2 separate regions of the Homo sapiens genome follow, and region 2 is reported to be linked to region 1. Evidence: microRNA targets listed by miRTarBase, many of them from high-throughput screens and not tested one by one. Region 1 holds a microRNA gene; the other region holds the end of a gene's coding sequence.

Evidence for each region. Region 1 holds the annotated microRNA hsa-miR-570-3p (CGAAAACAGCAAUUACCUUUGC, at 2,672-2,693, shown strand). A microRNA usually pairs through its seed, bases 2 to 8, with sites in the 3' UTR of a target mRNA and lowers its output. Matches are read on the target gene's strand: a 7mer-m8 pairs with bases 2 to 8, a 7mer-A1 pairs with bases 2 to 7 and ends in A, and an 8mer does both.
Region 2: the mRNA of SVOP is a reported target of hsa-miR-570-3p. Seed matches in the 3' UTR shown: 8mer at 1,879-1,886 and 7mer-m8 at 4,298-4,304.

What each region holds. Positions count from the first base shown.
Region 1 is chr3:195,696,789-195,701,860 of GRCh38, forward strand. MIR570 (microRNA 570) reads left to right here and starts at 2,613; the gene lies at 2,613-2,709. All of the region lies in intron 2 of MIR570HG (MIR570 host gene), which reads left to right. It overlaps LOC124909477 (a long non-coding RNA gene), which reads left to right. Exons shown (of 2, transcript XR_007096227.1): 2 at 2,242-2,282. It also overlaps the pseudogene SMBD1P.
Region 2 is chr12:108,907,940-108,913,008 of GRCh38, reverse strand. SVOP (SV2 related protein) reads left to right here. Exons shown (of 16, transcript NM_018711.5): 16 at 268-5,069. The coding sequence ends at 474. Among named protein-coding and RNA genes, the nearest start is that of DAO, 30 kb to the right of the region's middle.

The sequences.
Region 1 (5,072 bases):
GCAGGGGCGGAGACCCCTCCCACTGCACATCCCACTGCCTGGGTATCTGGCCCCCAACCGGCCTGCCCGCTGCTCCCACCTCCCATGGTGGGTCGGGGGCTGAGGGCTGGGGACTGGGGCAGGGTACCCCAAATATCTCTCGGTGGCGATCGCTCAGTCCGTGCAGTCCATCCAGCTCCTGCATTGTCCGTCCTACCAATAACCTCTCACTTGCAATTCTCAGCCCCTTCCTGCATTGTCTCCCTGTGAGACCTACTAGAACCCCCGCCTTTCACACTGCTGACCTGCTGGGGGAAAATGCACAGAGGCAGAGACGAGGCCACGCGGGAGTCCTGATCTCTAACCCCAGCCGGTCTCAGGCCTTGCCGAGGCAACGCTGCTTCCCCAGACACTCTCCCTTTCCCATTCTTTTTTTTTTTTTTTTTTGAGTTGGAGTCTCGCTTTGCCACCCAGTCTGGAGTGCAGCGGCGCGATCTCAGCTCACTGCACCCTCCACCTCCTGGGTTCAAGCGATTCTCCTGCCTCAGCCTCCCAAGTAGCTGGGATTACAGGCACACACCACCATGCCTGGCTAATTTTTGTATTTTTAGTAGAGATGGGGTTACACCATGTTGGCCAGGCTGGTCTCAAATGCCCGACTTCAGGTGATCCACCCGCCTCGAGCTCCCAAAGTGCTGGGATTACAGGCGTGAGCCATCGCGCCTGCCTTTACTTTCCCATTCTTAACGCCTCCCGTTTCAGACCTGTCCCCTTTTCCCCGCATTTCTGACTGTCACGGCACATCACAACCAGCAGACAGGGCTTCCCCTATTTCACAGGAGAAATAGAAGCCATCAGATGGGACCTCCTTCAAAGTCCTGCCACCAAACCTCAGCATGTACCTGGACCCACATGTATCCTCTTTTCCTTTGGGATTGAATTAGAGAGGTGCCGCTCGAAACCCGCTCCTGGGTGGGAGTCTTGGCTCTATCAGTTATGCCTCTATTCTGTATGTTTAACCTCGCCCTCGTAGGGGCATAAAACAGCATTTAAACAGGATCAAGCTTTCCATTTTAAAACTCCATACACTCCCTTAATTTCATCTCCTCCTCCACCTACTGCCCCATGTCTCTCCCTCTTCCTGGCTAAACGTCTCAAAAAAGTGGATACACTTTCTGTCAACTCCTAAACACTCCTCACGCTCATTTGGCCTCTGCTCCTCCCTTCCTCCTCCCACTTCATTGGAACTACTTCTGCCAAAGAGGATCCCTGAGTCAGCCTGACTGGTAACCCCAATGGACTCTACTCAATATGCAACATCCTTCACTTCTTAGCAGAGTTTGAAACAGCCTGACTCTCCTCTTCTGGCAACATTCTTTTCCTTGGTTTGGGGACGCTGTACTGTTCTGGTTTTGCCCCTCCCTCCGAGCATTCCTTGTGTTTGTCCTGGCCCATTTTCTCCTCTCATTCTACATCCTCTCCCCGGGGATTTTAGCTTCTCTCACGGCTCAGGTTACCATCTCCATAGTGATGACTATCAAATTCTGTACCTCATTTCCAGAGGCTCCTGACAGACTTGCTTGGTCAATATACTACTGGACATATTCATGAGACTGTCTCACACAGGCATCTCGAACCCAGTGTGTCCCACAATTCTCTTCCTATCCATGCCTGTTCCTCTTCCACTGCCTCATATGTCGGTGACTGTCCACCTTCTCTCTCTCTCCCCCTCTCCGTTTGGCTCATAGGAAAAGTGTCACCAAGGGCTGTAAGTGCAGATTTCTAATTATCCCCTAAATTTGAACATTTTTCCTCTCGAAAGTGTATGGCCATTACCCTATTACAGATCAACATCTTCAATCACTGGAATGATGGCAATAATCTAATTGGGTTCATTTTATCCTCTATCTAACAATGACAACTCATTGCCTACACAGCAGGTAGAAGGAGTTTGTTTTCAGAATTGCCCTCTGACCTATTTAAGACGCTCAGATATTCCCTGAGGCTCCTTGGCCTGGCCACAAAGGCCCTACACATTCTGGCTGCTTCCTCCTTTCCAGCATCCTCTCTCACGTCTCCTCTCCTCAGTTCCACCCTCAGGAGGCACCAGAATTCCTCACTTCTTTGACTACAAGGCACCGTCTTACTCCCAAGACCAGTGAATCCGAAGGTGGACCACCAGCTGAGGGACTAGATTCCAGACTGAATAGAACAACTTTCCCTGTCTCTCCACATAAAGTGTGTTTGTTTTTCCTCTTACAGGTTTCCTTAATGACAACAAAAAAGGGAGTAATCCTACCCACTGTAAGAGTCATGACTCTTGATTGCAGCTGACAGAAACTCATGACAGCCTGCTTTAGATGAAGGGGGAGAGAAGGACTGGAAGAATCTTGGAGTTGGGAATGTCACACGTAATTGAAGGAAGAACAAGAAAACTATAGTAAAGAACCCTGGGGTGGTGATGTAGTCATGGGCCAAGTGTCCTGGAACCCTGGGGTGGTGATGTAGTTGTGGGCCAAGTGTCCTGGAACCCTGGGGTGGTGATGTAGTCATGGGCCAAGTGTCCTGGAACCCTGGGGTGGTGATGTAGTTGTGGGCCAAGTGTCCTGGGTTTTGGGTGGAGAAAGAGTCCCCTAGATAAGTTATTAGGTGGGTGCAAAGGTAATTGCAGTTTTTCCCATTATTTTAATTGCGAAAACAGCAATTACCTTTGCACCAACCTGATGGAGTCCCCCTTGCCATGCTTCTCTCTGTGAAAAACCCCAAGCCGAAGTCAGCATAACATCCACAGGACTCTATGTTTGCAAAAGCCAGCTTAGCTATATTACATGTATAAGCACATTTTTTCAATAAGTCAGCCTTAGCTTACTGTAACTTTTTAACTTTATAAACTTAGTATTTTAACTTTTTAAACTTTTTTGTTGAAAACTAAGACACAAAAACACATGTTAGCCTAGATCCACACAGGGTCAGGGTCATCAGTATCACTGTCTTCCACCTCCACATTTTGTCTCTCTGGAAGGTCTTCAGGGGCAATAACACACATGGAGCTGTCATCGCCTGTGGTAACAATGCCTTCTACAGTACTTCCCAAAGGGCCTGCTAGTTCACTTAATTCTTTTATAGAGAGAAGGAGTACACTCTAAAACACTGATCAATAGTATATTATAGTAAATACATAAACCAGGAACACATTTATTATCATTATCACGTATTGTGTATTGTACAGAATGGTGTGTGCTGTGCTATCCAGGAACACATTTATTATCATTATCAAGTATTGTGTACTGTACAGAATGGTGTGCGCTGTGCTTTTATGCAAGTGGCAGCACAGTAGCTTTACACGAGCATCACTAGACACATGAGTAGCATTGCACTCGGCAACAGGAATTTTTTCAGGCCCATTATTATAATCTTATGGGACCGCATCCTATATGCAGTTTGTCATTGACCAAAATGTCCTTATGCGATGCATGACTATATTTGCAAAGGACTAGTATCTAGAATACATTTAAAAGTCTTAAAATAGTAACAAAACAAAGAATGCAATTAGAACATGAGCAAAAGATACAAAGCAACATTTCACTGGAGAAGATATACAGATTGCAAATAAGCACATGAAAAGATGTTTGATACCATTAGGGAAACGCTTCTTTAAACCAGGAGATATCACCACGTGTTAGAATCAACAAAATAAGGCCAGGCATGGTGGCTCACACCTGTAATCCCAACACTTTGGGAGGCTGGGGCAGGCAGATCACATGAGATCAGGAATTCAAGACCAACCTGGCCAACATGGCAAAACCCTGTCTCTGCTGAAAACACAAAAATTAGCCAGGTGTGGTGGCACACGCCTGTAGTCCTAGCACCTTGGGAGGCTGAGGCAAGATAATTGCTTAAACCCAGGAGACGGAGGTTGCAGTAAGCTGAGATCATGCCACTGCGCTCCAGCCTGGGCGACAGAGCAAGATTATGTCTCAAAAAAAAAAAAAAAAAAAAGAATCACCAAAATAAAAAATAGTAACAATACTATTGTCAAGGATGCAAAGGAACTGTACCACTCAATCACTGCTGTGAGAATTTAAAGTGGTGCAGCCACTCTGGGAAACAGCTTGGCTGTTTTTTTTTATGACTGAATGTGCAACTACTATATGATGCAGTAATTTCATTTTTGCACATTTATCCCGGAGAAATGAAAACATATATTCACACAAAACCTGTATATGAATGCTAATAAAAGTCAATTGGCCAGGTGTGGTGGCTCATGCCTGTAATCCCAGCACTTTGGGAGGCTGAGGCAGTGGATCACCTGAGGTCAGGAGTTTGAGACCAGCCTGGCCAACGTGGTGAAAACTCGTCTCTACTAAAAATACAGCAATTAGCTGGGTGTAATAGTAGCCACCTGTAATCCCAGCTACTGGGGAGGCTGAAGCAGAAGAACCTCTTGAACCCGGGAGGCAGAGGTTGCAGTGAGCTGAGATCGTACCACTGCACTCCAGCCTGGGCGATAGAGTGAGACTCTGTCTCAAAAAATAAAATAAAATAAATAAAAAGATTAGATAATCTGCAAAGTTCCTGTGAGCGCTGTCATTTTGTCACTCTGGTTTTTCAGATTCTTCCCCTGGAGGCTGGAGTTTCCAGGATGTCAAAATTACCTCTGCTTGGGTGAGCTATTTCAAGCAGCTGGGATACCTGTGTCACTCCTGCTGTCTGCCAGTGACTGCCCAGGTGTCTGCTGGTTCCTCCCCAGGAGTAGGGAGGAACCAGGTGGGCTGGCTGGGATGGGTGGATATTTAAAGACCAGGCCTTGGACGCTGCAGCACTTCTATCTCTGCTTGATGCCTGCTGCCACGTGGCTGGTCCTCCTCCTCCTGCTGTGGCTGAGCCTTGGGGTGAAGACAGGTGAGGAGCTAGGCTGGCATCTGTGCTACAGGTCAAAGAGACCCCAATCTCTGCTCTCTCATTCATTCAATCAATTAATCTGTTTTGTCTCTGGCATGACCCACCTCCTGTGACCCAGCATTCATTAATTCATTAATCAAATAATTCATGTATTCAGACACTTATTAAGTACCGACTATATGGTTGATGTG
Region 2 (5,069 bases), not on the chromosome of region 1:
GATTCTGCAGGCTGTACAAGCATGGCACCAGCATCTGCTTGGCTTCTGGTGAGGCCTCAGGAAGCTTTTACTCATGGAGGAAGGCAAAGGAGGGGCAGGCGTGTCACAAGGAGAGAGAGGGACAAAGGGGGAGAGGAGGGAATCACCAGATCCTTTTTAGCAAGCAGATATCACGAGAGGGCCTGATGTTACTAATACTATTTGATGGTTGGCGATGTCTGTGCTTCAGAAGGGATGCTTTCACCGACCCGTGTCTCCTTCCCCTAGGTGATGCTGGAATCCTCTGTGTACCTGACTCTGGCAGTTTACAGTGGCTGCTGCCTCCTGGCTGCCCTGGCCTCCTGCTTTTTGCCCATTGAGACCAAAGGCCGAGGACTGCAGGAGTCCAGCCACCGGGAGTGGGGCCAGGAGATGGTCGGCCGAGGAATGCACGGTGCAGGTGTTACCAGGTCGAACTCTGGCTCTCAGGAATAGTGACCGATGGGGGACTGAGCTGGTCTTTGAGGCTGCAGAGCTTGGGGGGCTGGCAGGCCCCAACTGGGGCACTGATTGTCACTGCCGACATCAAGAACTCACCCAAGAGTATGACCTGGACCAACAGGGTTTTGTGTCTTGACTCAGTTTGCTCATCTTCATTGAGGTCCACCCAGGGATGGGGAGATGTTTGCTCTAGGGGGTTCTCTGTATATGTGGTGAAAGCTTTGTTCATAACCTGTGGATCTACATGGGAAGACTACCCATATTAGGAGGGTCTGGTAATGCCAGCAACCAATCAGACACCACCCAGAGTCACCCGGCCAAACCCTCAGTGAACAACCAAAATATCTCTCTGTAGATACCGTCCAGGCTCAGGCCCATGTGACACCTGCTGTCCACCCACCGGACCTGTTCAGTAGGTTTCTCCCACACTCACAGCCCCAGGCTTTCTTCTTTGAAATTGCAGGCGATCTAGGTGTGGTCTGAGCAGCTATTTCCTGGCAGGGGCCCCCCGGTTTGCCTCCCTAGAGCCTGACCAGTGGATTCTCTGGCAGATGGACATGGTGCATTCAAACTGGAGCCACATGCCCCCACCCAGCCCCCTCTGGAGTTGCCGTTGTTGGCACCAAGAGATCCAGATGTGTCCCTGGGGACAGCTGGTCTTGCACCAGGTGACAACCTCAGAACGCCGTTACCCCCTGGGAACTGAGGACTGAGGCCAAAGTGAATCAAGCTGAAGTCAGAGCACGGGCCTCCCCTTCTGAAGCAGCGAAGGCCACGGTTCCGACTTCTTTCCTGGCCCCCTCCTTGGTCAGGCTGAATGGTGACTTTTATTGTTTTTTGAGACGGAGTCTTGATCTGTCGCCCAGGCTGGAGTGCAGTAGCGTGATCTCGGCTCACTGCAACTCTGCCTCCCGGGTTCAAGCAATTCTCCTGTCTCAGCCTCCCGAGTAGCTGGGATTACAGGTGCCCACCTGTACTTTTTAGTAGAGACAGGGTTTCACCATGTTGGCCAGGCTGGTCTCGAACTCCTGACCTCAAGTGATCCACCCGCCTCGGCCTCCCACAGTGCTGAGATTACAGGTGGGAGCCACTGCACCCGGCCTGAATGATGACTCTTGAGGGGAAAAAGTTTACTCAGGTTTGCAGGTACAAAATCCAAAATCCAGGGCTTTGGGTTTTGTGCATGGGTAGACAGCTGAATGGGCAGAGAAACCAGAAGGATGCTACACCCACCATCTCATCCCATGGGGATCAGGGGACCAGGATTCCCTGATGCGAAGCTGCTCCTCTGTCCAGGGACGTCTTGATCATTACACAAAGGCAGCCCCTGGAGTTCCATTCATGGAGCCTGCCGTGGAGTGGAGAGGGGTGGGAGGACTCAGGTGTGTGAAATGTATATGTTTTCAAAGGAAGCAGTGGGAGGCCAGTTGGTTTTGAGTTGGTCTCCGCAGGCAACATCACTTCTGGGATTTGGTTTACTGGAGCCTTTTTTCCCATGGTGAAGGCAGGGGACATAGACAAGGAGGGAGGAAGCTGGCAGATCCCATCAAAGGCCAGAGCAGACAGACCTACTGCTTGAAGTAAACATTGCAAGGAAGCCAATTTGTGCGTTCAACTCTTATTAAAACATGTCAGTGATGGACATTGCAAGAGCCTAAGTTTATTCATTGTCATCATGTCCTAGTGACAGTCCAGCCTAACGGTCTGACTACCTTTGTTCATCGGAATTCATCTCAATGCTTTAGTGTGATAATCTCCTTTCCAATGAGTGGGGAAAGACATACCGTTGGCAGCCAACATTGTGGCTGAGCTTGTTGGAGACAACACTTTCTTCTAATGGTGTGCAGGTCATGATGGGGGACTTCTTCCAGCTCAAGTTCTAAATCAACTGCAAACAATACTGTGTCTCTAAAATGTGGGCTGCAGCCCCCTCCGCCCAGGCAGTTGAAGAGGAGATGGCTTGGCAGATCTCTGTCTCTCTCTGACAACCACATTTCCTTGAACCACGTGTGGCTGTAGCTCTAATTATTTCTGGACAGCTGAGCTCTCCTGGGTAACACAGAACTTTTGCTTGTCTCTTTTGCCTTCCGGCTGGTCAGACGCTACTGGATGATCATGTCCGCTCCCTCACCCTAGAATAACCCAGTGGAGCTGGGGGCTGGGGGGGATAGAGTGCTTGGTGGGCAGGAATATTTCCCAGAGACTAGGGTAAAGGGGTTTACAGTTGAGGGCCTTCTCTACTTGAGAAAGTGAAAGTTAAAAACTCCTGCTGGGTATGGTGGCTCATGCCTATAATCCCAGCACTTTTGGAGGCCGAGGCGGGCGGATCACAAGGTCAGGAGATCGAGACCATCCTGGCTAACATGGTGAAACCCCGTCTCTACTAAAAATACAAAAAAAAATTAGCCAGGTGTGGTGGCGGGTGCCTGTAGTCCCAGCTACTCAGGAGGCTGAGGCCGGAGAATGGCGTGAACCCAGGAGGCAGAGCTTGCAGTGAGCCGAGATCGCGCCACTGCACTCCAGCCTGGGCGACAGAGCAAGACTCCATCTCAAAAACAAAACAAAACAAAACAAAAACTCTTTGCCTTGTAAATAGCCTGCCTTTTTCAAAAAAATCAATATTATCAAATGATACAAGAGCTATCACAAAAGGCACCCAAACTTCTGAATATGTGAGACCTTTAGCTGAGAACATTTGTATCTAATTTTGAACAATCCTATTCAAAAAGCTCCTATTTTCGTTAATGGAAATGCCATGTTTCTCTTAGAGTTACGAAAGATCTCAGAAAGTGGCAAAAGATATTTAATGTAGCCAGAGCTATATATTTCTGTTTTTCTCGTACTTCAAGTATTCTGAAAAACATATAACTGACCTTGGTGGTGTTCACAATGGGATGAAACAGTATCTTAGGAATTGACTTTGAAATTAGTATGGAAATTCATTGTTTTTAATATAACATTGAGCAACAGAAAGCCTTGAATGATAAGATCAAGAGTCTCCCCTGCCATTATTTTCAATGGCAAAAACTGCAATTACTTTTTTTTTTTTTTTGAGATGAAGTCTCAGCTCACTGCAACTCTGTCTCCCAGGTTCAAGCGATTCTCCCTCCTCAGCCTCCTGAGTAGCTGGGATTACAGGTGCCCGCCTTGATGCTTGGCTAATTTTTGTATTTTTAGTATAGACAAGGTTTCACCATGTTGGTCAGGCTGGTCTCAAACTCCTGACCTCAAGTGATCCGCCCACCTTGGCCTCCCAAATGCAATTACTTTTGCACCAACCTAAGAACAGTAATCTCAGTCAATAGTGGCTTAAACCATTAGAACCAAAACCAGGCAGAGATCAGAGAAGGTTCAACGCTCAACAATGTTATCAAGAACCCAGCTTCTTTTTGCCTTTTCTTTTCACCATCCTCTGCATGTTGGCCATCTGACCCTGTGCTTGAAACCTCATGGTCACAAAATGGCTGCCCCTGTGCTGGACATCATATTTCTTTTCAAAGAAGGTAGAATGGGAAAGGAGCAGTCATAAAAGGTTTTCTTTCAGAAGAGTCTGTTGGTTTTGGTTAGAAAAGGAAGTCCCCTGGCAGATTTACCATTGCTTCTCATTGATCAGACCTGGGTGTCATGCCCATCCCAGCATGAGTCCTGCTGTAGGGCTGGAAGGAAGGGCCTACGAGCACCAAGGGATACCCACAGCCTCCTGAACACAAAATTGGGATTCTGTTAGCACAGAAGAAGGATAGCAATGGCTGTTGGATGGGCGATGGTTGCAAGGAGCCTGCCGTGGATGTGTAGGCCACAGAGCTCTCATCAGCACTGTTTTCGTGGCCAGGAACAGAAATTCTACTCAGGATAATTAAAATTAAGGAACAGAGCTTTATTATAAGACTGGGATCGGTAGTTAATTTCCTACAGGGGAAATTCAGGGCATGTAAATCAGTGAAATGGAAAAGGTGTAAGGACAAGAGAAACACCAGCCCTGTCTGCAGGGGGGGGCTGCAACTCCCTTCCAGCTGATGTTGTTCCACCATGGGTCCAGTGTGACCAGATCTTACAATGTTCAAAAGAGGAGTCTAGGTTTTTCTGTGAAATCTCCAAATATTAGTATATTGGATCAAAAATGTTCAAATGATGTGTGAGCTCAATAAAATGCATCTGCAGTGCAGCTTTGGTTGATGGGCTGATGGTTCACTCTGACAGTTTAGAGAGATTGCATAGGAATAAAGTACAGCCTGGTGTCATTCAGAGGAACAGGGATCTGGGAAACCACTGGGGCCCAAGACAGCTGCCCCTCTGAATCTGTGGCTCTTGTTTCTTCCCTTTTCTGGCAGAAATGAGTCTAGCTTCCATCTGTTTCCTTGTGGCTGCTGTGTATGCATAATCATGCACAGAGCTTCCATAGCCTCATAACCCAGCTCTGCAAACATACCTGACTCAGCTGCTCAGTGCCCCACTCCCAGATCTTCAGGAATGAAGCTGATTGGCCCAGTTTAGTGTTGGATTGAGTCTTGGTCCAATTCAATTGGGTCAGGAAGAAGTGGTGGAGAGGTACAGACACGGTGGCATTGGCCTGCCCTTTAGCAGGGTGG